Linked DNA regions of Homo sapiens: region 1 is linked to region 2. The links come from fine-mapping of genetic effects on gene expression. A gene starts in region 2. The other region holds a variant in brackets. All regions are shown on one strand. Distances are from middle to middle. Region 1 overlaps DCAF8 (DDB1 and CUL4 associated factor 8). Region 2 holds the start of COPA (coat protein complex I subunit alpha).

Evidence for each region. PIP is the estimated chance that this variant, and not a neighbour inherited with it, causes the effect.
Region 1: its variant is fine-mapped to the expression of COPA in whole blood (TOPMed, PIP above 0.99).

What each region holds. Positions count from the first base shown.
Region 1 is chr1:160,230,944-160,246,757 of GRCh38, reverse strand. DCAF8 (DDB1 and CUL4 associated factor 8) reads left to right here. Exons shown (of 14, transcript NM_015726.4): 3 at 2,724-2,798; 4 at 6,388-7,061; 5 at 8,011-8,151; 6 at 9,529-9,623; 7 at 15,351-15,461. The coding sequence starts at 2,750. Among named protein-coding and RNA genes, the nearest start is that of DCAF8-DT, 23 kb to the left of the region's middle. The variant T/C (reference allele first, on the strand shown) is at 10,310.
Region 2 is chr1:160,336,725-160,352,538 of GRCh38, reverse strand. COPA (coat protein complex I subunit alpha) reads left to right here and starts at 9,289. Exons shown (of 33, transcript NM_004371.4): 1 at 9,289-9,408; 2 at 12,245-12,358; 3 at 12,557-12,630. The coding sequence starts at 9,369. It overlaps NCSTN (nicastrin), which reads right to left and starts at 9,156. Exons shown (of 17, transcript NM_015331.3): 1 at 9,058-9,156; 2 at 7,713-7,817; 3 at 3,417-3,540; 4 at 2,869-2,990; 5 at 2,289-2,434; 6 at 1,167-1,317; 7 at 734-843; 8 at 333-485. The coding sequence starts at 9,142. RefSeq lists enhancers at 5,672-5,721, 9,087-9,136, 8,409-9,356.

The DNA.
Region 1 (15,814 bases), 110 kb after region 2:
CTCCTGCCTCGGCCTCCCAATGTGCTGGGATTATAGGCGTGAGCTGCCGTGCCTGGCTGGAAAAGATTTTTCAGTGGCTCCTATACTTGACACCTAGGGCACAGCATCTCTGCCTCCTTGACTGATTTATAGAGACAAGGGTCTCACAGTTCTGCCCAGGCTGGTCTTGAATTCCTGAGCTCAAGCAGTCCTTTCTCAGCCTTCTGAGTAGCTGTGATTACAGGTGCATGCCACACCTGTGAGCATCAGGTTCCTGCTCAAAGTTTTCACTCATATAGGTTCATAATCAAAGTTTGGAGACCACTGCTCTAGAGTATCCTTCTGCAGAAATTTTGACATTTAATTCTACTTACTTTTATCATCTGTGCACATGTATTTTCTAGAGCAATTATGAGTCAAAAGTTCAGGCAGTCTGGGCTCCTGTAGGAGTTGATGCTTGGTTTTGAGAGAGGTTCTCTGCAGCTGCTTTTGAATTCTCTGGGAGTGGATAATAGTGGGGTGAAACGTATGGTAAAGAGTTTTGATTATGGAGGTGGGAAAACATCAGATCTGTTCTTCATGTTACACTGGTCTGCTTATTACCTTAGTTTATAAGTTTTTTTTAATTTTTTTTTTTGAGACGGAGTTTGCTCTTGTTGCCCAGGCTGGATGGGGTGCAATGGCACGATCTCGGCTCACCACAACCTCCGCCTCCCAGGTTCAAGCAATTCCCCTGCCTCACCCTCCCTAGTAGCTGGGATTACAGGCATGTGCCACCATGCCCAGCTAATTTTGTATTTTTAGTAGAGACAGGGTTTCTCCATGTTGCTCAGGCTGGTCTCGAACTCCTGACCTCAGGTGATCTGCCCTCCTCGGCCTCCCAAAGTGCTGGGATTAATCTTAACAAAGTAGTACATTTTCCCCACTTGATAGGAATTAATATAATTTTAAACTCTAGATGGAGAAGATAGGCTCCTATTCTAAAGAATATAAACAAGGACTGTTGAGAGGGAAAAACAAGTGCTGTGTGAGGAATGCTATACAAAACTGTCTACCTCAAAAATGAGGAAAACAAAATGCATTGCAAACAGCTTCTCACTATTTTTCTTCATGTTGCTTCACATATCTGTTTTTTGTTGCCATTGTCTTTCATCATCACCCTTCCAGGTGTCCCTTCCTGAAGTTCAGTCAGCTTCAGCCCCAGTCTTGCAGTATTTCTATTCCCACCTTGGCCTATTATGAACAATCTTTGGGCTACTGTCTTTTGACAGAGGATACTTTTAATGAAGCAGCTTAGATTTCTATAGAGGGTAGCGGAGGAAAAGATAAGGATGAGGCTGCTTCTGGAATAATTGTCATGGGAATGAAAGGGCTGTTGAAAGATTAGAGGCCAGTGTGCCTGGGTACAAGGACTGGGGTCATAATTATACTTTGTCTTTTACTAGTGCCTTTTGTCCAAGTCACTGAAAGGGCTTAATAAAATTCTGGTCTGAATAATATTATTCTTTGCTCTTTGGAATTTACTGGAGGTGGCAGTGAGGCTCTGAAAAAAATATGAATGTTTTATAGTGGCATAAAAGGAAGTGAGTTAGATACCCTGATTCCTTGTTAAGGAAAGATGAGTCTGGTGAAAGCTGGTGCTGTTAGGTGAAACAGTGTTTGCCATTATATGAAATGGGATGAGATGGTTTAATGGAAATGTTGCCTTTTTCTTCCCCACCTTTGTCTTTGTGCTTAGAGACTCTGACTGTTAGTCCTAAGGGAAACAAAACAACTTAAGCTTCTTTCCTAGGGATAGGGTGCTCCTGATTTCTAGTTTCAGCTCTATAATCCTTAGTATCTGTGCCTTTAATAAGTTTGAAGTTAGTTGGGCTGGGCGTGGTGGCTCATGCCTGTAATCCCAGCACTTTGGGAGGCCGAGGCGGGCGGATCACTCGGGAGATCGAGACCATCCTGGCTAACACAGTGAAACCCCATCTCTACTAAAAATACAGAAAGGTGGGCATGGTGGCAGGCGCCTGTAGTCCCAGCTACTTGGGAGGCTGAGGCAGGAGAATGGTGTGAACCCGGGAGGCAGAGCTTGCAGTGAGCCTAGATAGCGCCACTGCATTCCAGCCTGGGCGACAGAATGAGACTCTGTCTCAAAAAAAAAAAAAGAAAGAATAATAATAATAGGTTTGAAGTTAGTCATCTGAGTGAACAGAAAGCTCAATCTCTTCCCCCAAGAGGTTGATTTCTGTTGATTTGTGTGTAAAATGATACTCAGAATCTGACCCACCTCTTTATGTTGTGAAAACAAGTGTTGTACAGAGTTTGAGGATACATATGTCACTTATTTACATTGGAAGATTCTTGCCTAGGGGGCAATGCTGAAGTTAGCTTTATGTATTGAGTTGAGACTCTTGGCTTGCAGTACCTGTCATTTGATATGTGCCTCCTGTTCCAGGTTTTATTTTAGTTCCCACTTTCGCATCTGAAAAATCACTGCCAGTTACTCAGTGAGTGAAGTAAAGAGATGGCACTTGACCTCCCCAAAAATATATCATTATATGGATTTTAAACATAGGGAAGAAAACATAAGGAAGAAAAAATTTCACAAGCTGAGAAGACCTGTTAAGCATGCATACACAAATCATTTTTATAAAAATGATAAAACCTGTACATTGTTAAATCTCCTTGTCCCTATTGTCTTCTTTCCCAGGTGGTTTCCTAATTGTTTTGGTTTCTTCCTCTCCCAAACCCAGGCTGGCTACAGCAAACATCATTCAAGATGTCCAGCAAAGGGAGCAGCACAGATGGCAGAACAGACTTAGCTAATGGTAAGGGGCCAAAATGAAGGTGAAGCTATTTTTACTATCAACTGAGGTTGTCCTCCTCCCTGCAAGATAGAGTGGAGGCCTGGATTTTAGTGGAGAGAGGGAAACTTTCCTGTGTTGTTCTGAGTTTAGGAAACTACACAGGAAACACCTTGGACTATATTATGCTTTTGCTTCTTCTGATTTTATCTGATCATTTTCAAAATATCAATAACAGAGCTGTACTTCTAAGAGGTCAAGTGGTTTGGAGTTCTATAAAGCTATAAGGATGGGCAGAACCTAGGAAATGCTGTTAGTAAAGGAGAAAAATAAAATCTAATGGCTAGTAGGAACAAGGGAATTTTAGGGAAGATGAGCTTCCCAGTTATATTGAGAGGTCCCTTTCCACAGTAAGTAGTAGTTTGATAGAGAGATTACATGGCTGGGCATGGTGGCTCATGCCTATAATCTCAGCACTTTGGGAGGCTGAGACAGGCAGATCGCTTGAGCCCAGGAGCTTGAGACCAGCCTGGGCAACATAGCGAGACCCCGTCTTTTTAAAAAAAAAAAAAAAAAAGGTGATTACATAAGGGATGAAGTTACAACCCAACTAGGAGTGGGACATCTTTCCCCTCCTTATTTCCTTTCCTTACTTCCCCTCCCTTCTTTCCATTTATTTCCTTCCTTCCTTCCTTTCCCTCCTCCTTCTTTTCAGGACCAGTGCTGCCAAGTGTCAAATCACTGGCTTTAGGGCAGATTTGAAGGCAGAATATAAAAATTCTAATAGAGTATAACTACCACCTGGGTTATTTAACCAGCTCTTCACCTCTGAGCCAACTTTTAAATTAGAGAAGCCGCCTTTAAATGGATATAGTTGGGCAGCACAGAGTCCAGCATTCCTTAGCACCTTGAAGGTCAGGATAACAGGCTAAATTCTAGTTGATGTGATTGGAGGAAGGATAAGTGAGATTTTCAACATGCTTTTTTATTGCTCCATATGTTCTTATCACTGCCATTCATTCATCTTTTGTAAAGGAAAGTGGTTCATATTTTTCACTGGGTTTAGTTGAAAGGCACAGGGTTCTAGAGGAGTTAAAGTATACTATTGATTTGGAGCTTGACCATTAGCTAGGTCAAGGATTGGCAAACTATAAATTGCAGGCCAAATCCAGCCTGCCACTTGTTTTTGTAAAGTTTTATTGGAATACAGTCATGCCTGTTCGTTTATGTAGTGTCTATGAGTTGCTTTTGTTCTACATACTGGAGTTGAGTAGTTGTGGTGGAGCTCCGTATGGTCTGCAAAGCCTAAGGTTTTTACTATCTGGCCCTTTACAGAAAAAATTTGCAAACCCCTACTCTAGATCTTGGTGATTTACTGTTGGGGACTTCTTGATGAGCTTGTGATACCCTCTGGCCCTTATGTTAATGTGGTAAGGCCTCCAAAATTGTCTATATTTGTTACTCATAATTTTAACAATAAACACTAGATGTTTTGGTGTTTTATTTTTTCTTTTCTACAGACCTGTTAGGTTGGTGTTTCAGTCCCTGCTCACCACTCCCAAGCTCAAGCCCAGCTGCATTTCAAAAAACTGTAACTGCTAAACTTTCGTAGCATATATAACAGGCTCAGCAAATGTGGTCCTTGGGTTCAAATTTCTGTACTTCATAACTTTTTCTTCCAGCCCCTAGCCCAGTTGTTTTATACTGTGCTCTTAGTTGAGGCTTTTTTTTTTTTTTTTGAGACAGAGTTTTGCTCTTGTTACCAAGCTGGAGTACGGTGGCACAATCTCGGCTCACTGCAGCCTCCACCTCCCAGGTTCAAGCGATTCTTCTGCCTCAGCCTCCCAAGTAGCTGGGATTACAGGCACATGCCACCACGCCCGGCTAATTTTTTGTATTTCTAGTAGAAATGGGGGTTTCACCATGTTAGCCGGGCTGGTCTTGAACTCCTGACCTTAGGTGATCCACCCGCCTTGGCCTCCCAAAGCGCTGGGATTACAGGTGTTAGCCACCGCGCCCAGCCTGCAAGAACTGTTTATGTCTTCTGGGCTTCTGTTACTGCTTGAATCAAAGCACTTGTATTGTTGATCTTTTTTCAGTATTGGGTTTTGCTTAAGAGTACATTGCTTCAGAGCTCTTCACAAATTACTGCTCTAATCCACATGACTAGGCAATAAGGTGCTCCACCTTTGAATCCTTAAACATCAGTGTGGTATTGGAGTTGAATAGCTCATACTGGATGGTCTGCCTTTCCTGACAGCTTTTACTTCTGGCGGATAAAATTTATAGCCATCTGAGGAAAGGAGGCCCATGAGCAGCATTTAAAATCTTTATTCTCCCCTTTTTTCTTCACACCTTGACTTAGGTTGGAAGTTGTGGTTGTATTGGCTTTAGAACATTCCTCAAGTTCTCATTGGAATTGACTTGACTGTTGTGAGTTAAGAGAATGCAGTATGTAGTTATAGGAGATAAGATCGATAAAAGTGACCTAGTTATTTAACTATCAGCATAGCAGACCTAGAATATACTGAACTTTCGTCTTAGGCACCACTATAGTAGCCCAGCTTTTTATCAATTTTATATATGCTTCCTAATAAAACTGTCTCAATAGAGAGACTAAAAATGTGTGACTAAGAATTATATTAAAAAATTCAAACTAATGGAAGTAAGTCAAAATATATTTACTAGCAAAAGGTGAGCAAGAACCCACTCAAATGATCACAATTCCCACTTACCCCTTCAGCTTGCTTTCTTAGTGAATTTTAGAAACTTAGGTGGGGAAGAAGCTTAGGATTTAGGTGACAGAAGGTGTAGTGGTACTTTCTTTTTTTTGAGATGGAGTCTCGCTTTGTCGCCCAGGCTAGAGTGCAGTGGTGCGACTTTGGCTCACTGCAAGCTCTGCCTCCTGGGTTCATGCCATTCTACTGCCTCATCCTCCTGAGTAGCTGGGACTACAGGCGCCCGGCTAATTTTTTGTATTTTTAGTAGAGACGGGGTTTCACCATGTTAGCCAGGATGGTCTCGATCTCCTAACCTCGTGATCCACGTGCCTCGGCCTCCCAAAGTGCTGGGATTACAGGCGTGAGCCACCGTGCCTGGCCTGATACTTTCTTAAAGTAGGAAATGGTGCAACACCACATCCATAAGTCAAGAGTGATTTTTATCAGCTGGTTTCCGTCTTTCGCTAAGAAGATGGCTATGCTAGCTCTTGCTGGAGTTGGCTCTTCTTTTTATATTCTGTTTAATTATTTGCTATAACTTAATAAATGCCCATCCAATACAACAGAGCCAATGGTAGATGTATCAGGCACACTTTTATACAATATGCCAATGTTTTGCCTCTTGAGAACTTAATATAATCTTAGATTGTCCTGAGATTCTTTGCTTTTGTTGAAGTATTTTATGTGTGTGGATTTGATCTTAATCTTTTCAATTTCTTGTCCTTTACAAGATTTCCCCTCAGAGGGTACTCTCTGTAATTATTTGTAATGAAAACACTTGGACCAAAGTTCATTTTTTGGTCTTTTGATGTGAAGATTTCTTAGACTAAGGTGGTCACTATCCTGTTTTCTTATTTTTCCCTCTCCTCTACTCCTTCCTCACTAACATGCAGGAAGCCTGTCTAGCAGTCCAGAGGAGATGTCTGGAGCTGAAGAGGGGAGGGAGACATCCTCAGGCATTGAAGTGGAGGCCTCAGACCTGAGTTTGAGCTTGACTGGGGATGATGGTGGCCCCAACCGCACCAGCACAGAAAGTCGAGGCACAGACACAGAGAGCTCAGGTGAAGATAAGGACTCTGACAGCATGGAGGACACTGGTCATTACTCCATTAATGATGAAAATCGAGTCCATGACCGCTCAGAGGAAGAGGAAGAGGAGGAAGAAGAGGAGGAAGAAGAGCAGCCTCGGCGCCGTGTACAGCGCAAGCGGGCTAACCGTGACCAGGACTCATCAGATGATGAGCGGGCCCTAGAGGACTGGGTGTCCTCAGAAACATCAGCTCTACCCCGACCTCGCTGGCAAGCCCTCCCTGCCCTTCGGGAGCGGGAGCTGGGTTCAAGTGCCCGCTTTGTCTATGAGGCCTGTGGGGCAAGAGTCTTTGTGCAGCGTTTCCGCCTGCAGCATGGGCTTGAGGGCCATACTGGTTGTGTCAATACCCTGCACTTTAACCAGCGCGGCACCTGGCTGGCCAGTGGCAGCGATGACCTGAAGGTGGTGGTGTGGGATTGGGTACGGCGGCAGCCAGTACTGGACTTTGAGAGTGGCCACAAAAGTAATGTGTTCCAGGTGAGGCAAGGGAGCATAATAGCAACTGAGAGAATCAGGCATGAGTTAGAGAAATCTGAACTGCAGCATGGATTGGGAGCTGATAGTGAGTTATTGTAGGAATTACATATCGGGACATGGCCCTACTTTGGCTCCCCTAATGACCTAAATACACTGAAAGACTCTTGGCAACCCTAGATTCCTTGAGCATGTGGACTGTTGGAAGCCTCATAGGTAGGGTGCATGCAGCTTATTAAATGTGTGCTGGTAGGAGGCAGTGTAGTATAAGCACAGGCTCTTGAACCAAACTGCCTGAGTTCAAATCCTAGCCCTTCTGCTTACTAGCTCAGTGATCTTGGCCAAGTTATTTTACCTTTGTCTTCAGTTTATCTGTAAAATGGGACTAATAACACATAGGGTTATGAGGATTAAGTAACAATAGAAGCTAAGCAGTTAGAACTGTGACTGGTACTTAATAAACATTTGATAAATGTTAGCTTATACTGTTGTTATTCTGGAAAGATTTTACTCCTTGGCCCCATCTACTGTACTGGTACCAGCCATTTATCCTAAGGGTGTTCTCTTTTCTTCCCTGACATTCCCCCTATTTTCCTTTTTCTTTGTAGCAAATTTATATTTACTTTCTTAATCAAAGTAGATTTTTCCTCCTCTATTCCTTTTCTCCTCTGCTAGATACAGTCCTAGTTCATCTGAGCTCTTATCATGTGCCAGTTCAATCTTCCAGAGCCAACTGAAATGCTCTCTTACATCAAAGGAAGTTTTTTCTCTCCCTTTCCTTTAACTCCTGGAAGAAATTGGGCTTAGCCAGCTGTACAAGAGTAGGAAAGCTAAGTTTCCAGCTGTCATGTAAGAAAAGGGGGTAAGTTGAGGTCATCATCGTATTTTTTATTCTCAAGTTTACCTCTCTCATTTCTTTTGTGTGTCCTTTTTTTCATTTTTAACACCCCAGGCCAAGTTTCTTCCTAACAGTGGTGATTCTACTCTGGCCATGTGTGCCCGTGACGGGCAGGTTCGAGTAGCAGAACTGTCTGCCACACAGTGTTGCAAGAATACAAAACGTGTGGCCCAGCACAAGGGAGCGTCCCACAAGGTAAGTAAGACCTTGCTCCAAAATTTGTGCAATCCAAATCCTCTGTGGTTCTCAGCCAAGGTTCTCCCTTATCTCTGCCCATTGTGTCACATTTGTTGTGGTCATGTGCCTCACCTCTTTCAGTCCTAAGATTTGTGGTTAAGAAAGGAGCAAAAGCAGCCACCCTAAACTCCTAGGAAGGCAAGTATCTGAAAAGTCCCTAGATCATGCATTCATAGTATTTGGCCCCTAAGCTAAGCCCTAGTTGGTTTGGAGATCTTTGAGGTCTCCTGTGCCCTCTAAACCTTTTACATTTATTGTGATTTTTTAGGGTATTTTGACAGTTTCAAGGTGCTAGTGGTTTATTCCTCTTGTGTGAGAGCTTCAGCTTACCTGCTCAAACTCTCAGTTCACAAATAGCACTGTTTCTGGAAGCCCTATTTAAAGCTGGGAATATAGGCCAAATAATCCATGGTGGCAGCTAACAAGGAGTTAAGAGCTGCCAGTTTTAAGGTAGGCATGGTGTTGGTCTTTTGTGCCATGAAAAGAGGTTGGTACTCTCTTAGAAACCCTAAGCAAAAATATAGGTGGACCTGGAGTATCCTTTTCTAGCCAAGGCGGCCCAGGATATGTGAAAATTACCTATTTCTTTGATTCTTAAGTCTACTCCTAACCCACTAGTTAACTGATTTTCAGTTGTAAGGAACTAAGATGTAAGGAATGAAGTTGGACACCATTTCTCTCTGCACTTAAGGGTATGGAATTGATTTTATTCGAGAATGAACTGTTGCTGGGTGTGGTGGCTTATGCCTGTAATCCCAATACTTTGGGAGGCTGAGGTGGGAGGACTGCTTGAGGCCAGCAGTTAAAGACCAGCCTGGGCAATATAGCAAGACCCCATCTGTGGAAAACAAACAAAAAAAAAGCGAAAAAATTAGCCAGGTATAGTGCCTTGTGCCTCTAGTCCCAGCTACTTGGGCAGCTGAGGTGGGAGGATCACTTAAGCCCACAAGGTTGAGGCTTTAGTGAGCCATGATCATGCCACTGCACTTCAGCCTGGGTGGTAAAGTGAGACCCTGACTGGAAAAAAAAGAAAATGAACTCTAATGGCTGATGTTTTTCTTTGCTATCTGTTCATATCTCTTGAGGACTTAGTTGAAATAGCAAATCAACTGTCCTTTGACTAGTTATAGAATAAACAAAACTATAAATAATTCGCATAGAACAAGAGTAAGTGGGCTTAGATTATGTCCTTTCCTGGGATTTTATGACAAAAAGGTAGACATTTCTCTTTTTGGAACATTTTAAGTGCAGCCCTTCCCAAAGTTATAGGAATGAACTAGATGACCTCTAATTCTAATATTTAGAAACCTCATGTTTTTCCTTTTTCTTCTTCAGTTGGCACTGGAACCAGACTCTCCCTGTACGTTCTTATCTGCAGGTGAAGATGCAGTTGTTTTCACCATTGACCTGAGACAAGACCGCCCAGCGTCGTAAGTGTAGCAGTAATATCATTACAGAACTGTATCTCTTAGCCTTGAACATATTCCATATGTCTTGGTAATGCCTAACTCTGGTTCATCCGAATAGTACCTTTGTGCCTATGGTTAAGAGGTAGTTTAAGGTTAAGGGGAATTCCTTACTTCCTCTCTTTCTCAGTAGTGAAATACTATTCAGTCTACCTTCATTTCTCAAACAGTTTACTTGTTATATGTGGCCTTTAATAATTTGATGATCTTTTGCTCTTTATTCACTTGGATATCATTCATCTTACCCACAGAAAGCACATTCTTCCACAGACTCATGTAGAGGTACAGTCCTGTAAATTTTAAATTTAAATACATTTTTAATTTAGTTATTTATAGAAACATACAAACATAAAATTTGAACAAAAATACTGGTAGCTGTAGTTGAGTTCTGTTTTATCACAGTTCATTTGTATGTGAATCTGAGACTCATAGGTAAATTTTATTCCTTTTTAACTGTGTGGTATCATAGAAAAAACACAACATCTTGTTTGGATCCAGGCAGACCTAGGTCAAATCTCAAATCAGGCACTACTAGTTATGACTTACATAACCTTCTGAACCTCATTTTCTTCAGCCTTGCTATGGGCATATTTTTTTCCCTCCCTCCGTCCTTCCCTCTCTAGTAGTTTCTGTGAGGATATATATATATA[T/C]ACACACACACACACATACACACACACATATATACACACACATATACACATGTACACATATATACACACACATATATGTTTATATACACACATATGTACACACATATACACACATATGTATTTATATACACACACGTATATATGTATGTATATATATACGTACGTGTATGTATGTGTGTGTGTGTTTGTGTGTGATGCCTCAGCATAATGTTTAACACCATGGCTGAAATTGATTAAGTTTTAGCTTATAATTATAATTATTTTAGTTTCTTTTTTCATTTTTATTGCTCTTACAATAAACAAATACTTCTTGTTTAAGAGATTCAAGTAATAAAGTATACAGACAAAATGTAAATGCTCCCTCAGTCACCCCCGCCCCACCATTTTTTTAGCTGTTGAAAACCATTGTGGGCAGGGCACGGTGGCTCACGCCTGTAATCCCAGCACTTTGGGAGGCCAAGGCAGGTGGATCACTTGAGGTCAGGAGTTTGAGACCAGCCTAGCCAACATGGCAAAACCTCACCTCTACTAAAAATACAAAAATTAGCTGGACATGTTGGCATGTGCCTGTAACCCTAGCTACTCAGGAGGCTGAGGCAGGAGAATCGCTTGAACCTGGGAGGTGGAGGTTGCAGTGAGCTGAGATCATGCCACTGCACTCCATCCTGAGTGACGGAGCAAAACTCCATCTCAGAAAAAAAAAAAAAATCATTGTAAGTAATTTTGAACACCTTTTTAGTCCCTTTTGTATACATTTTGTACCTAAATACATATATACACTTTCTCCTTTCTCCCCATAAGTATACTTGTATGTATATATAAACATATATGTATGTTTCTGCAGTTTGCTTATTTCATGTTACAATGTGGGAGATTTTTCTGTGTTGGACCATAAAAGCTACCTTGTTGTTAACCATGAGAGAAATGTCATAGCATTGGTGTACCACAGTTTATTTAACCTTTACCTTATTGATAGATATCTAGATCGTTTATTGTCTTGTTTGTCTTAAAGATTATTATAACAAATCTTGGTCAGGTGCAGTGGCTCATGCCTGTAACCCCAGCACTTTGTGGATCACTTGAGGTCAGGAGTTCGAGACCAGCCTGGCTAACATGGTGAAACCTCGTCTCTACTGAAAATACAAAAATTAGCCGTGTGTGGTGGCACATGCCTATAATCCCAGCTACTCAGGAGGCTGAGACAGGAGAATCGCTTGAGCCCAGGAGGTGGAGGTTGCAGTGAGCTGAGATCATGCCACTGTACTCCAGCCTGGGTGACACAGCAAGACTGTCTCAAAAAAAAAAACCAAAATTATTATAACAGATCTTATAGGTCAGTACCAGTATTGAGTAAGGGATGGCAATGATTTACATAGGACATAAGTAAAATATAAATTAATTTATATTGGGGAATATAACATGAAGGCTGATTATTACTAGACTTATTTTTGGAGAGCTAAGTCCAGAAAAAGCTGTTTGGATAGTAGAAGAATTTCTACAACTGCTTAAAAGATAGAAATGTTTTAGGCTTGGGGAAAAGATATGTTGCTTGTTTATATAACCTTCAAGAGGACAAAGACTGGGAGATTTATAGTGGAAATGGAACAAGCCTAAATGACAAGGGTTCTGCCTTCTAGTACTAGCTTTGTAGTTATCTGACTTTGAGGAAATCATTTAATCTTTTGAACTACATGATGTTTGTTATTTCCAGTTCTAAAGTTCCAGGGTTCTGTAATGGTAATGGAAGATTAGCAAGTTTTTCATAGGGAAGAGCAAAAAAGGAAAAAATGATAGTAAGTTTATTTAATATGCTGTGTTAAAGAGTTGTGAAACAGAGTGAGATCTTATCCTGTGGATCAGGTTCAGAGGGAAACTACTGTTAGGCCACCAGGAATTGAATCTGGTGCAAGTAATGAATAGAGCGAATGACTTTGGCAGATTATTGAATTTAGAATGAAATTATATAGGCAGAAAGTCTGGCTGAGAGTTAACCATGAATCTGAACATAAGCAATGATAGGTGGGATAGACTCTAAAGAGGGGTAAAGGAGAAAATGAAGAGTAGAAGGAGGCCCAAATCTAGATTTGAGTAATAAAGACAGTGAGTCTTTAAAGTTTTTGTTGTAAGGGTTAAAGTAGTGTTACAGGCTGGCATGGGGTGAAAAGCTGAACATCTGCTTATGTCAGAGGCATTTTTTTTTTTTTTTGAGGTGCAGTCTCACTCTTTTGCTCAGGCTGGAGTACAGTGGCATGATCTTGTCAGAGGCATTTTTGTGTGAAGTTGGCATAAGGGGGATTTTCTTTTGTATATATGATGATAGCCAAGTCTCTGAAAGCTAATGAAATTGACTAACATCTTAGGAAAAAAGTTTGATTTGAACCTGTGGATGGAATATTCCTTTAGCCAGTGGAAGCCAGTTTGAGGTATTCTTCAAAGAAATCCTTTGGTCTCATCTGTAATTATTTTTCCCTTTTTGCTGGGACATACTTGCTCATTAATTTTAAGGCAAAATTTGGTGAATTTGTTTAATGTTTCCTCTAATGTGAACATTTTTTCCTCCTATTGCCATGATAATCATTTTTATAGCACCTCTGCATGCCCCCTGCAGAGTTCAAGGTACTCTGCATTTACCCATCAGGAGGGAGAAATGTTTGTTTTATGGGATTAAGTTGAGGCATAGTAAGATTGAGCTCTTCAGCAGGATTACATAACTGTGGAGCCAGTACTTCATAATCTATTCCTTAGTTTCTTCATTTTGCTTCCACATGGTAACTTTTGTATTTGTTTGACCTTGTCCTTCTGAAATTTCAAATTGCTAAGGAAATGAGATGGTCCTGTGGGAAGGAGCAGCATCAGCTCCTCCTCTCTTTCCCTGTCTAAAACTCATATTAGAGCAGTCTCTTAGCTAGTTTTGTCCCTGAAGCTGTTATTCTTTTGACATGTTTCCTGCCTTGTGTTTTTGAGATGTGTGGGGGACACCATTAGGGGATGGAGGTTTCCCCTAATGACATTCATTTTCAGTGCCCTCTGTATTTTTTTTGTTTGTTTTTAATTTTAAAATAAATAGAGATGGGAGCTCACTATGTTGCCTAGGCTGGTCTTGAACTCCTGGATTCAAACGATCCTCCCACCTCAGTCTCCCAAAGTGCTGGGATTATAGGCATGAGCCACTACACCTGGTCCTCTGTATTCATTTAATGAAAAGCTGCAGAGATACTAAGTAAAATCTCAACACTTTGCCTAGAACAGTTCTAGGCTGAAGTGACTTTGGCTATGCAGAAAGGATGCTAAAATCATTTCTTTACAAAGAAACTTGTTGTCATGGTTATATTTCTTTCTGTTTCCATAGCATCAGAAATAAATAAAACCTTAGACTTAAAAACAAAAACTAAAGCCAAGCCTCTTCCTATAGTTTCTTGAAGTCTTTCCTTTGCTGTAAATTTACCAATCTTCATTATGTCATATTTGACTAATTGAATGCTTAGATCTGAGAAGAATATTCCTCATGCCACCCTTAACCTGGAACAAATTATGGCTGTTTTAGACAGATTATTCTGGATTTCTTCAGTGAAAAATTTATCAGTTTTCAGTGTGCATATTTTAAGCTGGGTTTTTTATTTTTTTACTTTTTGAGACAGGGTCTCACTCTGTCACCTAAGCAGAAGTACAGTGGCAAGACCACGGCTCACTGCAGCCTCAACTTTCTGGACTCAAGGAATCCTCACACCTCAGCCTCCTGAGCAGCTGGGACTATAGGTGCATGCCACCACACTGGCTAATTTTTTATAACAATTTTTTTTTTTTTTTTGAGACAGAGTCTCCCTCTGCCACCCAGGCTGGAGTGCAGTGGCACGATCTTGGTCCACTGGAACCTCTGCCTTCTGGATTCAAGCAGTTCTTCTGCCTCAGCCTCCCAAGTAGCTGGGATTACAGGTGCATACCAGCACGCCCGGCTAATTTTTTTATTTTTGGTAGAGACGGGGTTTCACCGTGTTGTCCAGGCTGATCTTGAACTCCTGACCTCATGATCCACCCACCTCGGCTTCCCAAAGTGCTGGGATTACAGGCGTGAGCCACCGCACCCGGCTTTTTATAATAATTTTTTATAGAGATGGGGTCTTGCTATGTTGCCCAGGGTGATCTTGAGCTCCTAGCCTCAAGTGTTCCTCCCAAAGTGCTGGGATTATAGGCATGAGCCAGTGCCTGGCTTAAGTTGGGTTTTAAGTGACTTTTTTTTTTTTGAGACAGTCTTGCTCTGTTGCGCAGGCTGGAGTACCGTGGCATGATCTCTGCTCACTGCAGCCTCTACCTACCAGGCTCAAGTGATTCTCTTCCCTCAGCCTCCTTAGTAGCTGGGATTGTCCTGAGTAGCTGGGATGATAGGCATGCGCCACCACGCCTGGCTAATTTTTGTATTTTCAGTAGAGATGGGGTCTCGCCATGTTGGCCAGGCTGGTCTCAAATTCCTGGCCTCAAGTGACCCACCCGCCTCAGTCTCCCAAAGTGTAGGGATTACAGGCATGAGCCACCATACCTGGCCATAAGTTACATTTTAATGGAATCTGAGCAATAGTCTCTGACCTTAAGGTCTTTTTTAGCCTACTGTTTCTGGGATTCTTCTTCCACGTCTCTCCTTGTTCCCAGGTGATAGGGAAGATATATTTATAAATAAAGGGTAGGAAGGTATCTGTAGTATTGTCTGATTAATAACTGGCTGTTACTGTGTTGGACTGCAGCTAAACTGAGGCTTCCTAAAGAATGGTACATTCATATACCTTTAGTTTATACTTCTTAAGGAACACTAGAAAGTGACTTCACTACATATTTTTTTCCCCAATCCCCAAAGTCCCATATAATAAATGTATGTGCTTTTTTCCTGTTGTTACGTACAAAACAAACAGAGAAAACACAACAATTCTTTCTTTCCAAATGAGAATCTCTTTGGTTTCTTATTAGCCATGTGACTCTCTTGGCTCTCCTTTGCCATGACCATTTGGATCTTTTGGAGTATATAACTTTCTGTGCTTTTCTACTCTTAAAGGAAACTGGTGGTGACAAAAGAGAAAGAGAAGAAAGTGGGGCTGTATACGATCTATGTGAATCCTGCCAATACCCACCAGTTTGCAGTGGGTGGACGAGATCAGTTTGTAAGGTGAGTTTGTGGCTCTTTTGTGTCTTTGACAGTTTGTAAGACTGATGCATTGTATACTACCAGGTGCTCCTTTATGGAGAGTTACGAATTTTATAGGAATCCATTAACTATTATCTTGAATTTTTTACCGTTTTCCAAAAATCTTACACGCCTTTGGAGATGTTCTGTTCTCTAATGTAACAGTCTCTGAGGGGTGACTTTACATATTTTAGAGATTATCAAGTTTTAAAGAAGTTAGATGATGGTCAGGTGTAGTGGCTCACACCTGTAATCTCGACACTTTGGGAGGTGAGGCGGGTGGATCACCTAAGGACAGGAGTTTGGGACCAGCCTGGCCAACATGGCAAAACTCT
Region 2 (15,814 bases):
AGAGTCAGGAGCCTAACGGCTCCTGGATGGAGATAGCAGTAAAGGAGTCCAGAGAATAAAAGTAAAAGGCCGCCTCCAATATATCTTATCAGTGGGGGAAAGAGGGGGCTGGTTACATACCAATTCAGGGTGTAAAAGCTTCCTAAAAAGAAGGAATCTAAGCTTCCTAAAATGGAGGAATCTAAAGGGGAGACACATGTAGACACATCCAGAAGCTCTGTGCTGGTTAACAACTTAGGTCAAGTGCTGAGGTCTTCTCCAACCAGTAGCCACTCTCATCTTTACTATCCTCTTTCTTCCCTGCCATTGCACCCCAGCCAAAGAGCCCTTACCCCTTGAAAGAAGACAAACATGACATTGCGGGGCAGGGTGGTCACATCAGGTGCCTTTTGCAAAGCTTCAGCAGCAGCCAGCTGGGTGACAAAGGAAGCCACTGCGCTTTCAGCCCCTGGGGCCACATTCCAGAAAAAGGAACGACTATCCAGCTAGGTACAACAGAAGAAAAGTCAGGGGATATATACTTTAAAACTGGCCCCAAACCTCCTTTCTTGCTCCAGTCAAGAGAATATACCTGTCCTGTGGCAATGGAGACAACCCAGGAGTCCCACAGCCCAGATTCCTCCCCATTTGAGGCTTCCCAATTTAGCAACTTTGAAATCTGATATGCTAGAGCGGGGCCTACCAGCTCTTTTTGTGCCAGCCCTGCCCATCCTGATCAGAAGCCAACACTCACCCGGGTGGCAGCAACCACAACCCTGTCGTCAGGCTTTAATGTCCCAGTTGTATTTATAGGCTTTAGCATGCTCCACACATTGTAATCAGACAGGGGGTCACAGACGATTTCTAAGCAGGACACAAACAATGAGAGATCAACAAGGCTAAAGGAGAAGGTAGCTATAAAGGCAACATTGGAAATCTCTGACCAGTGCCCCACGGACTCTAAGTCGTTTTCTCTACTTCCAACAGTCCGAGGTTGGCTTCTCTGCCACTATCCACTTTAGGAACAAGCTGCCTAAATTTTTCAGAATTGTTTCTAGTTCTCCCATGCAGAGCTCCTTCATGGTGTCTACTCCTTCCCTATTACAGTCTCTCTAACATTCCCTGGCCTGGTTCCACTCTCCCTCTGCCCCTTATTCCATTACCCTCATGGTTCGGATCTGCCCTACCTGGGTTGATGCTGAAGGTGCTTTGGATGGAGCTGCGCCGCATGCAGGTGGCAGTGCTGATGACAGCATGCATGTGTGAAAAGAGCTGCATGGCACATAGTGGGAAGGTTGGTGCTGAGCCATTCTGACTCAGGTTGTGATCTTGATAGCACTGAAAGGGGAGATGGACCCCACTGAGACAGCTAGTTTGTGGAGGCCCTCCCTTACATCCCAGAAGGAGGAGGGCCCAGTTCCATCCTTTTGGGATGGAGCCACACCCTTTTCGGAGACATTTATCCCTGAGCTATAGTTATCCTAGAACCACCATAGGATCTATAAGGTCAAAGAAAAAAACTCATCAAGAGTTACAAAGGGTTGCAGACTCAGTGGTTTAGCTGGAGATGAAACTATCCCATTCCAGATGGCCTGGCCCAATTTGAAGCTTCAGCCACTGAAAAGATTCAGTGTGGTCTGATACAAAGAGCACCAAACTAGAGATAGGAAATCAGATATGACACAGCTTGGAGATCAACTCACCATACAACTTTGGACAAATCTCTTAACTACTCTATGAGTCAAAATGGAAATACTAGACCAGAATTAAGGCATATTAGAGCTAAAAAGAAGCTCAGAAATTACCAAATTGAATTTCTCAATCTCTAATCCAATGCTTTTTTTTTTAACGATACTAGTGGTTCTTAACCTGGGCTGTGTACCTTGTTTCATATTACTCTTTCAGATATTCTTTATATTTTCTTCTAGTCTAAAAGGCTTTAATGCTGTAATATCAGGTAGGAGCAAAATGTGGGGAAAGAATGTGAGAAGAACTAACGTCTTGGTTCTTTTTGGAGCAACCGTCTTTCAGCAGGTGTACCAGAAGAATGAGCCACCCTCCAAATAGGAGAGCCTATAAAATAATCCTTTTTTTTTTTTTTTTTTTGTGACACAGGGCCTTGCTCTGTCACCCAGGCTGGAGTGCAATGGTGCCATCTCAGCTCACTGAAACCTCTGCCTCCCGGCCTCAAGTGATCCTCCTGTCTCAGCCTCCCGGGTGGCTGGGACTACGTGCACACACCACCACACCTGGCTAGAAAAATAATCTTCTTTCTAACTGGAATTGCTAGGAGCTGGCAGTGTCATTACCTGCTTGATGACTTTGGTTTCATTTTCATCTTCAAGAAGAAAGATGGGGAAACTAAAGTCTTCATAAGCCAAACCATTGCCCAGCGAATTCCACTGTATTTCTCTGCAGTGAGCAAACTCTGGCCCATAGGAATTGGAGTAAACACCTGAAGGGAAGGATGGGGAATAGGGGGACTGGTTACTGGGACACCAAGTACTTAGGAACCAGGTGACGGCAGAAGAATCTTTCAGTTGGGACTAAGAGTTCAAAAGGAGGTGGTGACTCAAAGAAGTAGGCATGAAGTCTATTACCATCCACACTAAAATAGAAAGACAATGGTATCAGGGAGTCTTAGGCTGTAAGATTAGGGATGTGAACACGTGACAAAAAGAGATAATGCCAGGTAAGGCAAAGGAAGGGGAAGCAGGAGAGGGAAGGGATGAGCAGCAAAGACAAATAAACACTACCCCCTGTTTGGGAGTCAGTTACTGACACTACACACAGACACAAACACATATACATCCCTCACAAAGACGTAAGACCGAAGCAACAGTGAGCCTTAGGTGACAGTAGGCTCTCCTGATCCTTTGGGACACTTACCAAACCCATCATTTGGGCACTGTACACTAGGAGAGAAGCCTGAGGCAGGACTGGGCTTGGTCAAGGACACTGCAAGACCAGCAATTCGGCTGGTTCTCCCTTTCAGCTTCTCCATTAAATCCCTGGAATAGGAAAGGAATTCCATGAAGGAACACAGGAAGGTATCAGACAGCCTGACATTCTGCCTGCAGGATGGAAACAAATGGGGAACTAGGGGAATCAAACTGTTGACTTATTTCTTCCCTTTCAGTCTCTAAATTCTGAGTCTGGACAATGATCTGCTCTAAAAAGTAGAGCTTTAGTGAGTAAGGACCCCAGGGAGGGAGGGGAGGGATGCCCAGGGTTACTCAGGGACAGGTAGGTGAAATTTAGCCCTAAGCTCAAGATCATTTCTTTTGATGGTACACCTTTCCTTCTGAGGACCACCCTGCCCTCTCCCCTGACCAGACCAGGGCAGCCAAGGGAAGTTTTCACTAATAAGTGTGAGGACTGTTCACTGAAACTTTCCCTCTATGGATGTTTTCCCAGCAGATACATCTAGTTCTTACCTGGTAAAATGCTTGCTCTCCAGCAGAACCATGTAAGGGGGGTTGGGGCCATCAGTCAATACCCACTGTAGGTCCTCCTCTTTCTCTACTACGTGGATAACCCCTGTGTCTCCACTAATTGAAGCTGCCAGGACAGAATGAGTCAAATTAAAGCTCCCATAGTTAACAATTCTGACTTTGCCTCACTGATTCTGCGTATCTTTTATCCCCTAAAGATGTCACAACATATTTGGGTGAATACAGGCACCTCTAGATTTGAACTGAAAAGCTGTTGCCCCAGCTCCATCTGAAGGTTATCAGGAGGGAATGGAATATAAAAGAGCACAAGAGGACTCATTATATGCCAGAAAGGTTCTGTGAACTTCATTTTTTTGCCCTCTGCCCTCAACCTTATTTAGCCATATACATAAGATTCTACAACAATAGACACCAAAGTTTTCAAACCTATATTTTCTCTAGGAAATGCCACTAAATCTCTAGCTCAGGGTTTTAGCTTTGAATCTTCCTTTGTAAAAACACATGCATACATGCCCTTGGCCTCAGGAGCTTTCCTGGATCGTCATTCCTTTTGCCCTTTTTGGGAATGACTTTACTTGCTTCTGGCCGGTTTTAGATGAGGTTAGTCAAGAACTCTGAGGTTTCTAAAACAGAGCTTCCCAATTGATAAGCCTCGAATGGATCAGAGATGTGCTCTCATTGGTTCTCCTCATTCCAGGAAACCTAGGGTTTCCAAAGTCACCTCCAGCCAGGAGCCTACTTATCATTTACCCCAGGATGCCCTGAAAATATCACCCATTTCTCTATGTGCCAGGATGCTATACAAATAACATTTTCTATGTGTCTCATGACATGATAAAGATTGGGAAGCACTGTATTAGAGGATGGATGACCCAGAGTCCAGAATACTTTGAATTCTACATAATTCAAGGCATTAGGTAATACTCCTTAAGTCCCCAGTGATCTGTGTGGAGATATCCTAGGGTCTCCCTGTGAGTCTTCTCCCTACAGAAAATTGGATATGTTATTCATCAATTATTTTAGACCAGTAGTTCTCAGCCCTGGCTGTATATCAGCATCACTTTAAATGCCCACTCAGCCTCCCAAAGTGCTAGGGTTACAGGAGTGAGCCACCATGCCCGGCCCTTGCCACAGCATTTAAAACATGGGAAAAGGAACAGATAGTGTGGCAACTAAAACATATATAACTTCGGCCGGGCACAGTGGCTCATGCCTGTAATCCCAGTACTTTGGGAGGCCGAAGTGGGTGGGTGGATCACTTGAGGTCAGGAGTTTGAGACCAGCCTGGCCAACATGGCGAAACCCCATCTCTACTAAAAATACAAAAATTAGCCAAGTGTGATGGTGCACACCTGTAATGCTAGCTACTCAGAAGGCTGAGGCAGGAGAATTGCTTGAACCTGGGAGGCGGAGGCTGCAGTGAGCTGAGATTGTGCCACAGCACTCCAGCCTGGGTGACATAGTGAGACTCTGACACACACACACACACACCCCAAAACTTCAACTCCAGCGAGGACAGGAAGACAAACTATGATACTGGACTGAAAAAAACCTGGATTCTAATCTGGGTTCCAACTAGTAATGGTGTAGTCTTAAGTAACTTGCTTATTTTCTCTGCGCCTTCAATGAGGTTTTCTACCTCTATTCATCTCATACTGTGGGGACAGACGAAAGAAGGAAGAAAGGATAGAAGGAGGGAGGGAGGGAAAAGAAACCTATTTAAAGCCCCCTTTGAGAACTTTAAAGCGTCTAAGAGAAGCAGAGTATTATAATCAGAAATCAAATCTGGGTATCACTTTTTTCTCCTTAGTTTTATCATGTTAGCTACACTAATTAAAAAGGGCGGAGCCTGCTCAGAAAAGACAGATATGACGAAGTAAGATTTGGAAATAAGTAGGTTGAAAAGGAACCAAGATCTTAATGAGGAAGTGGCCACAGTCCCGCTTACCCCCTCTTGTTTCTCTGTACTGGCACGTGGCTTTACCTCTAGAGGCTTTGCTTCCTACAGAGCTGTTTTAAGAACATAGAGTAGAATGACTTATTCCCAAAGGAGTTTTCTTAGAGCCTAGTTACAAGAGGTTGGGGTCCTGGCCTTCTGTACTTTATAGTGAGGTTCCAGCAAGACCAGCAGTCTGATCTCAGCCCACCCTGGACCTAGCTCTCTTCTACCTACAAACCAGTTCAGAAACTAAGTCCAGAGGGCTGGGCATGGTGGCTCATGCCTGTAATCCCAGCACTTTGGGAGGCCAAGGCGGGCAGATCACGAGGTCAGGGGTTCGAGACCAGCCTGGCCAACATGGTGAAGCCCCGCCTCTACTAAAGATACAAAAAATTAGCTGGGCACGGTGGCACGCGCCTGTAATCCCAGCTATTCAAGAAGCTGAGACAGGAGAATTGCTTTAACCTGGGAGGAGGAAGTTGCAGTGAGCTGAGATTGTGCCATTGCACTCCAGCCTGGGCGAGAGGGCGAGACTGCATCTCAAAAAAAAAAAAAAGAAACTAAGTACAACAAAAACTTTATTTGGGGCTGTTTGGAACCAGTCAACCTACTCCCAGTGCTTTGTATAGCAGGGACATGGGACAATTAACAGATACTATAGCTCAGGGAAAGATGGCTAAAAAAGTAGTAACTGCTTCCACGAACAAGTCCTTCACTTCTCAGTGTCCCAGTTTTCTCTTATCAAATGGGAAGAAGGCTTCAGGAAATTATACAGCACTTTTGAGACCACCCTATTTACCTAGCGTCATCAATAAACAACTATTAAGAGGTATTTGACTTTCAGCTTTATGCAAGTACTCCAACCATTATTCCAGGGGTAAACTGAAATTCAGAGGTGATCAATTTGATGATGAAGAAGCCAGTATCAGACCCCAAGTTTCCTGCTTATCTGCAAAACTACATTCTGACAGAGCTATTGTCCATGGGAAACAAAATCTGAAGACAGCAGGTTAGCCTTTAGATTACTACTTTTCCTGCCCTATGATTTTGATAGTTTTTAAAGCCACAGTGTCATGGAACCTTCTTTTGGAACACACAAAGTGTGAAAATAAACGGCCTGTCAGTTGAATTTAAGGAAAAAAAGTTTTAAAAAAGGATAAATAGAATGCTTCACTAATTCCTCTTGCAATTATTCAGCATTTTCTTTTTTTTTTTTTTTTTTTTTTTCAGACAGTGTCTCACTCTGTCACCTATACTGGAGTATGGTGGCACAATCTCAGCTCACTGCAACCTCCGCCTCCTGGGCTCAAGGGATTCTTCTGCTTCCGCCTCCCGAGAAGCTAGGACTACAGGCATGCCATAGCAGCCAGCCGGCTAATTTTTGTATTTTTAGTAGAGATGGGGGGGTTTCACCATGCTGGCAGATTGGTCTCAAACTCCTGACCTCAAGTGATCCACCCGCCTTGACCTCCTGAAGTGCTGGGATTACAGGCATGTGCCACTGCGCCCAGCCTATTTGGCATTTTCAGTGCCTTCTCTTCAGATAGTTCATTGCCTTTAGCCCATTTTGGTTCCAAAAAGTTCAGAGTGCAAGTGATAACTGGACACCATAGAATATGAGACTTTTTTCTCCTTAAAAAACAGTATAATAGGGTGGTTAAGAGTGCTGGCTCGGCTGGGTGCGGTGGCTCACGCCTGTAATCCCAGCATTTTGGGAGGCCAAGGTGGGTGGATCACTTGAGGTCAAGAGTTCGAGACCAGCCTGGCCAACATGGTGAAACACCATCTCTACTAAAAATACAAAAATTAGCTGGGCATGGTGGCAGGTGCATGTAATCCCAGCTACTCAAGAGGCTGAGGCAGGAGAATCACTTGAACCTAGAAGGCAGAGGTCACCGTGAGCCGAGATCGTGCCATTGCACTCCAGCCTGGGGGACAAGAGTGAAACTCCGTGTCAAAAAAAAAAGGTCTCTCAGCTTAGTGCTCGGGCCACCAGATCCTGGCATCATCACTTATTACCAGTATGATCTTGGGAAAGTTACTCAACTTCTTTAAGTTTTAGTTTCATCATTTATAAAGTGACAATAACAGTAAGACCTATTTTGTGGGGTTGTGGTTGGGGTTGTATGAGATGCACATGTAAAAAGCTTGGTATGCAGCATTTACTAAATGTTAGTTCTTATTAATTATCTTGCCTAGCTTGACAGACGGTTATCTGTAACTGCCTACATACAGTCCAATATAAGTGTCAAATCTCCTAAGCAGGACATGGATGTTACTTAGTATCTAGGGCACAGACAAATATCAATGTCCACAAACATGAATCCATCTCAACTCACACTGGCAGCCAATCTGATGAGTGGCGTTGAGCAGGCGAACACAGGGAGCTGTTTTATTTAAGGGGATATATATCTTCCTCTCCACTGAGTTTCCCCTGCACAAACCTGATCGGAAGATAAAAAGTGTTAGAAAAATTTGAGAGACACAGGTACTAGCTTCTATCGTGTCATTAACCTGAAGTATGGCTTGGGTAAATCATTTAATATCATACTTTCTAAAATGAGATTAAAGTCCATTCTTCTGATTTCTTGGGCACACACTTATCGTAACAGATACATGTTCTACATGGCACCCAGCTATGTGCCTCAAAGGGTTATTACAAAGTCCATGTAGCGCCATTGACAGTGACACTAAAAGAGAGAAAACTTGGTCAAAGGAAAGGTGTTTGACCTTAGATTTGCCAGATTCTGGTTGCACAGGTGATCACACTTCTGCTTGTATATCCTGTATGTATATTACTAATTGGTTAATACACAGGTGCTGGGCTAAGAAAACTTTCTGAGGCATTTTTCCAAGAGTGTGAACAGAATTGAGAGAAACCTTATGACATACACGGGTCAGTTAATTTAACATCAGCAGGTCATTTGTGTGCCCACAGTGTGGGGCAGCTGTAGTTTCTCCTTTGAGGATCCTTAAAAACAATGTGAATTGGGGGAAGGCACAGTCATAGTTATATACAGGCATTTGCATTTTAGGGCTTGACCAACTAAAAAGCCATGTATCAGTAAATGAACGCGTATCAGCAAACACTTAAGTACATTATAAATGCCAAAAGTTCCTTGAATTGTTACTTCAGGGTCTTCACAGTTAAGAGTACCCATATCCTACCTTATTCTTGCTTTACTGATTAAAAAAAAAAAAAAAAAAAAAACCTGAGGCAAGGCAGGGGGACACAGACTTAGGATGTAATCAACAGAGGAAGAAATAAGAAATCCACCTTTTAAGCGCCGCACAGCACCCACAGAACAAGATTGCTTTCGTCTCAAAAAGTCTAAACGCGAGGAAGAAAGCTAACTTTCACACCTGTTCCTTTCGACTGTGGGGTGGGTGGCTGGGGTTGTGGGAAAAACGAGACATCTGGACAAAGTGGGAGAGGGTCAGGCTCGAAGTCCAGGAAGAGGCCTAGAGAAGGGAGTGAAGCGACACGACGTGCTGCGGGGGAGAAGGGACCTTCAGGTCCAGGCAAAGGGGGAACTTCTGTCGTGGGAACGAAAAAGAAAGAGGATTTACAGGGTGGGGGGACAGAGGGGCAGCAGGAACCAGAAGGGAGACAGTGGCGGTCGCGGCGGGGCCGATCCGAGAGTTCCCCTTAGAGAACGGAGCTCACGGGCGGGGAGGCCTCACCTGCTAGTAGGACGCAGAAAGACAGAAGGCGAAGGAGACCCCGACTTCCCGGGTCAGCCCCAGAGCCACCCCCTGCCGTAGCCATCTTGCCTCTCTGCTGAGCGGAAGCCCCCGTTCGGCTCCTGTCTGTTAGCGGCCTCTCTAGGCTACCACTGACACCGTCTCTGTGGCCCGGAGCCTAAGAGACCGGAAGTTCGTGTTTCCAGGCGCTTCCGGAAACCGCGGGAGAGGGTCGCTGACGTGGAGGCGTCCGAAGGGCAGCAGGGTGTGTCGGGGCTCGGATTAAGACATCGGAGTCGGAGACCTGAGAGATGTTAACCAAATTCGAGACCAAGAGCGCGCGGGTCAAAGGTAGTGGAGAATAAAAGGGGGAACATGGAGGTTGGATGTCAGGAGCGGCGCTGACACCGGGGAAGAGAAAATGGGTAGAGGTGTTGGTCGAAATGGGCCCACCAGACGGACCCGGAGGAAGACGGAGGGTGGGAGAGAGGTTGGGCCTGGCTAGCGGTTCTCCAGTCCCCTCTTCTTTGGTGTGTCCTTGGGCTTCGATTTACCTATAAAGTGGCTCCCACACTGCAGGGGATTCCTTAGACCCCCTCCCTATTCTTTCTTCCCCCTTTCTCTCTTGGCTGTGCTCCCGATTTGTGTTGTTCTGCTCCAAAGGCCCTGTGATCTGTTGGCTTTTTGATGACTGTGTTATATGGAGTGGCCCTGGGAACTGAGTCTCGATCTCTGTTACTCGCACCCGAGTCAGTAGCCTTTTTGGAGACGAGTAGTGGCAACCTCACTTAAGGAGGCCTTGGCTGCAGCATCTCAACATCAGTGCCTCCATTCGGCTTTATTTACTACCCGGAAATAGTACTTGAGGCTTATAACCCCAATAAAGTCTCAACTTGATAGAGTTGCCAGATAAAATGCAGGATACCCAGTTAAATTTGAATTTCAGGTAAACAATGAATAGTTTTTTAGTCTGTCGTTGCTTACCAGAAGTTCAAATTTATCTGGAAATCTCGTATTTTTATTTGCTAAGTACGGCAGCTCTAGAGCTCGAGTGTGGGTCGTTGGGGGTGGAGGGCAAATACTGAGATCGCAGTATTAGCCTCAGAACGTTAGAATGTGAAAGTCAGAGAAGTAAGGTCTCCGAAGACCTGGAAAAAATAGTATCTAGAATATTTAGTGAGATGCAGCGTAACAAAGTGGTTAGGAACTTGGTCTTTGAAGTCAGATGGGCTTGCCTTGGAATCCTGAGACATCCACTAACAAGCTGTGACTTGGATGACTTACTTAATGTCTCTAAGTCTGTATTTCCTCATCTGTAAAATCGTCTTTTATAGAGAGTATTAAAATGAGAAAGTATATGGAGTGTATTTATTACAGCGCCTGGTGTAGACTCAGTAGCTCAAAAACTGGAGGTTGTTATCAATGTGTGAATATATTCTGAGCAGTTTCTAAGTCTCTTGGGAAACTTGACCTTGAAAGATGGGTACCATTAAGAATTTCTGAGACCTGTATAGGTGAAATGTGAAATGGGTCTTCATAATCTTTCAGTTTTCTTTTCTGCTCCTAATTTCTTGCTGGGCAGTACAGAAGGAAAAACAAAGATGTCATAATATTTGAGGGCAAACATCCATTGTTGAGTGTACTTATATATCATAATTAAAAAAAAGAACCTAATGGAAAAATAGACAATTTAGAAGAAAAATTGTAAATGTTCAATAAATAATTAAAATAGTTCCACCTCACTAGTAATGAAAGAAATGCAAGAAAAAAAAAGTTAAGTTACTTTTTTGGGGGGAGGGTCTTAGATTTATAAAACAAAACAACAAATAGCTGATAGCAGCCTGTGTGCAAAATGGGCACCTCCATAAACTTCATGAGACTGTATATTGATACAGTGTTTTTACATTTAAACTATATGTACTAAAATGTTAAGTGCACATATTCTATTCCTGAGCAATCTCACAGGTCTTTAGCCTAGGGCAGTAATAATGCAAATAGGCTAGATTATGTGTAGAAGTATCTTCAGTAGGCTCTTCTGATAGCCAAAAATTGGCGGACAAAATGCCTGTTAGAATAATATAAGTGTAGTACATTTGTCCCTTGTAGTTAAAAAGAATGAGGTTATGTTTATATGTACTTCCATGAGATCCATATTATATAGTTAAGTGAGGAAGAAGTTTGCAGAACAACATCATAACGTGATCCCCACTTTCATAAAATACTAAAGCCTATGTCTATGTGTAACTGCATTAAAAATCTGAAAGGATACACTTCAAACTGTTAGTAGTTGTTACCTCTGGGGACTTCCATTTCCAGTCATGATAGAATAACAAGAGCCAGATTTACCTTCCCACCTTAACTATACAACTGAACAAAATGTATGAAACAAAGGTTCATACATTGCTCACAGATGTTGGGCAACAGGCAGTGCAGGAAAATAATTCTCCAGAGAAGGCAAATAAACAAGGTGAGTCCTGTGATTGTCGTAGATTACTGCCTAGAGAGTTTTTAGGCTTCAGTGAAGAGGGGAATCCCTTGGTCTTTCTGAGGAGACATAAATTTAGAGTGTGGGGAAGCAAAGATGGCTAGATTTTGTTGGGCAAAATACCGGAGAAGAGGGGGCTGCAGAGAGAGAGCACTAGAGATCTGCAGGATGTCTTCTCAGGTCTTTGTTTGAGTACTGATCTGCATGTGAGAAAACTATTCAAAACCTGAAAAAGGACCACTGGAAAGGAGAAGGCAGAGCAATCCCCAGAGTTCACACTAGTGAACTGGGACTAGTTTGTGTTCCTACTTGCCAGAAAGGAAAGACTTCCTAATATTACAGGGCTTCAAATAGAGACCTCAGATGGCTATTGCTTTAATAGTGGTTCCAGATTAAGCCTAGAATGAAGGCTGCTGTAGCCCCTCTGTAATAAAACCTAAAAGCAAGCCTTGAAAGGATCAACTGATTCCAAGTAACTTAATTGTATCCTAGAGCAAAGCCCAAGAATATGTAAAGGAATATGACAAAAATCTAGTACCAAACATAAAATTCACGATGTCTGGCATCCAGTAAAAAATCATCAAGCATGTCGAATGAATGAACCTAGGATTAACCTTGATGTTTCTTTTTCTTATCAGAATTGACAGAAGGTGACATCATGGGGCTTAGTTAGCTCATTGTATCATTTTCTATTTTTTTCAGGGCTCAGCTTTCACCCCAAAAGACCTTGGATCCTGACTAGTTTACATAATGGGGTCATCCAGTTATGGGACTATCGGATGTGCACTCTCATTGACAAGTTTGATGAACATGATGGTGAGATATTTCTAGGAGGAAGTTAAAGGAGTATAAGTATTTATAATATCCTGGGGTATTTTAAGCCTTGTTTGACATGGATTCCTCTATGATTAAAGAATGTGGAAATGATAGAACTGAAAAATCCTGAATAGGAATCACCTTAGAGATTAGAAAGGATAGCTCTGTCTAACATACATTGCCTGCCTTCTCCACCAGGTCCAGTGCGAGGCATTGACTTCCATAAGCAGCAGCCACTGTTCGTCTCTGGAGGAGATGACTATAAGATTAAGGTACAGAGGGTCTGTCATAACTGAGAATAAAGGAAAGAGGATGTGGGAAGGTTTGGGAATCATGAAAGGAACTGAAAGACAGGAAATTTCATTCATACAGAGCTCAGGCCTTTGACAACATTATCCGGAGAACTTACTCAGCAAACATTTATTGAATGCTTACTGTGTACCAGACACTGTTTTCTTTTTAGGGAATTCAAAAATAAATAAGAAATGGCTTCTGTTTTCAAGGAGCTTTTATTCTAATACAGAAGATAAACATATATCCAAGTAATAGCATGTACAGTTTGGTAAGCAATATAATAGAGAGATATTCACAGTGAAATAGGAAAGAGCAGTATAGGTGCAAAGACAAAAAGCATGACACAGCTAGATACAGGGCAGCTGTTATTGGTTTTGTATGGAGAAAACCTGGAGAAATGGTGAGAGAAGGGGCAGAAGATGAGAGGGGCCAGATCATGGAGTACCTGTTTGTGGCGCTCAGGAGTTTAGATGTTATCATGCAGATAACTAGGAGCCATTTGAGGAACTTAAATACAGGAGTGATACCAGATTTATATGTTTTTAAAATGATTACTTGGTGGTAATTAAAGAAAAGATTGGATGATTTGGGCAAGACAGGAGGCAAAAATACCAGTTAGGAAACCTGAGCTTAGGTAGTAGCATTTGAAATGGAGAGAAGGAGATGGATGTGAGAATTTAAGGAAATGAATCAGTGTGTCTGTTGGGTGATGGCCAATAAGGAGAAATAAATGAGATGGCCAATAAGGAGAAATAAGGGCCAATAAGGAGAAATAAATGAGCTGACTTTCAGGCTTCTAGTTTAGGTCACTGGGTAAAGGGGGTGTCATTAACTAGGAAAGGAAAATCAGGAGGAGATAGTTTTCTGGAGTGGAAGAGAATGGATAATGAATTCCATCTTGTCTCTGGTGATTTTGAGGGACCTAAGGGACAGTCTAGTTGAGGTGTCTGTGCTAGAAATATATTTGTGATTTGTCGTCATGAAGGGAGGAGCCAAAGGAGAAGCAGTAGAAGATATTGCTCAAGGAGTACGTTGAATAAGAAGACAGACCATCATTTAAGGGAGAGAGAGGAAGTAGAGTTAGTATGGGAAACAGTGATTCGAGGGGTTCGAGATGAACCAAGAGGGAGAAGAAGCCTCTTGGATGCCAAGGAAGAAGAGAATTTTGGGAAGGAGAAAGTGTTCAGAATAAGATCAAGATTGAGAAATAACCTTTGAATTGCTTAATTTGGAAGGCCTTAGTGTGAAATGAGGAAGCAGACAGAATATAGGCAATTCTTTAAAGACAACTGACTATCATAATAGCAAAAGTTAGAGCCAGAGACTAGCAACCTATAAAAATAAATCAAAATTTCCTCTGTTTACTTCCTTTAGTTGTTTTCATTAAGTCTATGTGTCAAACCGAACCAGTGAAATTTAATTCATAAAAAGGTAAAGTCTTTTCATAAGCAACTTCAAGAAGTTATATATTGTGATTATACCGCAGAACTTAGGTGATGGGAGTAAAGAGTGACAGCTGCCTACAGAGAAAAGAGCTATTAGAATTATAGGAAGGACATTTCTTTCTGTTTTCTAGTTTTTAGGCACCACATCCTGGGGCAATCAAAACTCAAACCACCTGACAGATCTCAAAAGCCCATAAGGATATCACCTCATTATAGTATTTTTGTATTTGTTATTTATAGTGATGAACATTGAGTATCAAGAATGGTTAACTTGGGATTCTTATAATCTGTTTAAAAAGGAAAAACTGGGTGTTAATTAAGAAAAAGTTTTCCCAAAATGACTAATATTTTGGAAAAGAAATTATCTTCCACTTATGAAATGTCCAGAATAGGTAAATCTATAGAGACAGAAAGTAGGTTAGTGATTGTCTAGGGTTGGAGGGGTTGGGAGGAAATGAGAAGTGACAGCTAATGGGTATGAATTTCTTAGGGGAGTGAATAAAAATGTTCTAAAATGGATGGTTGCACAACTGTGAATATATTAAAAGCCATTGAGTTTTATACTTTATATGAATAAATTGTATGGTATTTGAACTGTATCTCAATAAAGCTGTTATTAAAACAAAGGAATTCTTTATTAGCTGGTAGGTGTGTAGTGCTATCATTTGGTGGGTTTTTTTGGTTTGTTTTTTGTTTGTTTGTTTGTTTGTTTGTTTGTTTTTTGCGATGGAGTCTTGTTCTGTTGCCCAGGCTGGAGTGCAGTGGCGTGATCTCGGCTCACTGCAGCCTCCACCTCCCGGGTTCAAGTGGTTCTCCTGCCTCAGCCTCCCGAGTAGCTGGAATTACAGGCATGCGCCACCAAGCCCGGCTAATTTTGTATTTTTAGTAGAGATGGGGTTTCTCCATGTTGGTCAGGCTGGTCTTGAACTCCCGACCTCGGGTCGTCTTCCTGCCTCGGCCTCCCAAAGTGCTGGGATTACAGGCGTGAGCCACCGCACCCGGCCCATTCGGTGGTTTTAATTAATTTCTCTGATGACTAATAAACTTGAACATTTTTCCATAAAAAGGGGGATTATCTAGAAAAGTCATGTCTGTGGACCATCTTATTGCTTGCTATATCCAGATAAATGTAGCATTAGTTATAATCCTCGTTGACAAAGAGTAAGACAAGGAGCCCAGCAAATGGTCAGAGTATTCATCTAAAACCCCTATAAGTTTTTAAGGATTTACAGTTTTGGAGCTTGACTTAGGCCATTAAAGGAGTCAAGACATTTTGAAACTAGAAATATGAAAGTTTAAAACACTGAACTCTATAAGGGGAAAAAAGTCAGTTAAAGAATAGTGTTTATGGTATGGTCTAATTTTTATGTGAAACTCTACTGTGTACATGTGTATTTATATGTAGCTGATTGAATAGATAGAGGCAAAGGTATTGGAATACCTTAACTTTTCATGTTATTCTTATTTCCATACATAATGCTTACTGAGCACTTACCTAATGTCAGGCACTGTGTTAGGTGGTAAGGGTATAGTGTTGAGCATGATGGACAAGAACCCTGCCTTTAAGGAACTCAGCATTCTTGTTTGGAAGATCATACTTTTGGATTGTCTGGACTTGTTATAGGAAATGAAATTTTTATAATTTACTGAAGAAAAGTTAAAAATTAGAAATAGTAACAAGCTGGCCCAGATTGATTATAAACAAATATTAAAAAGA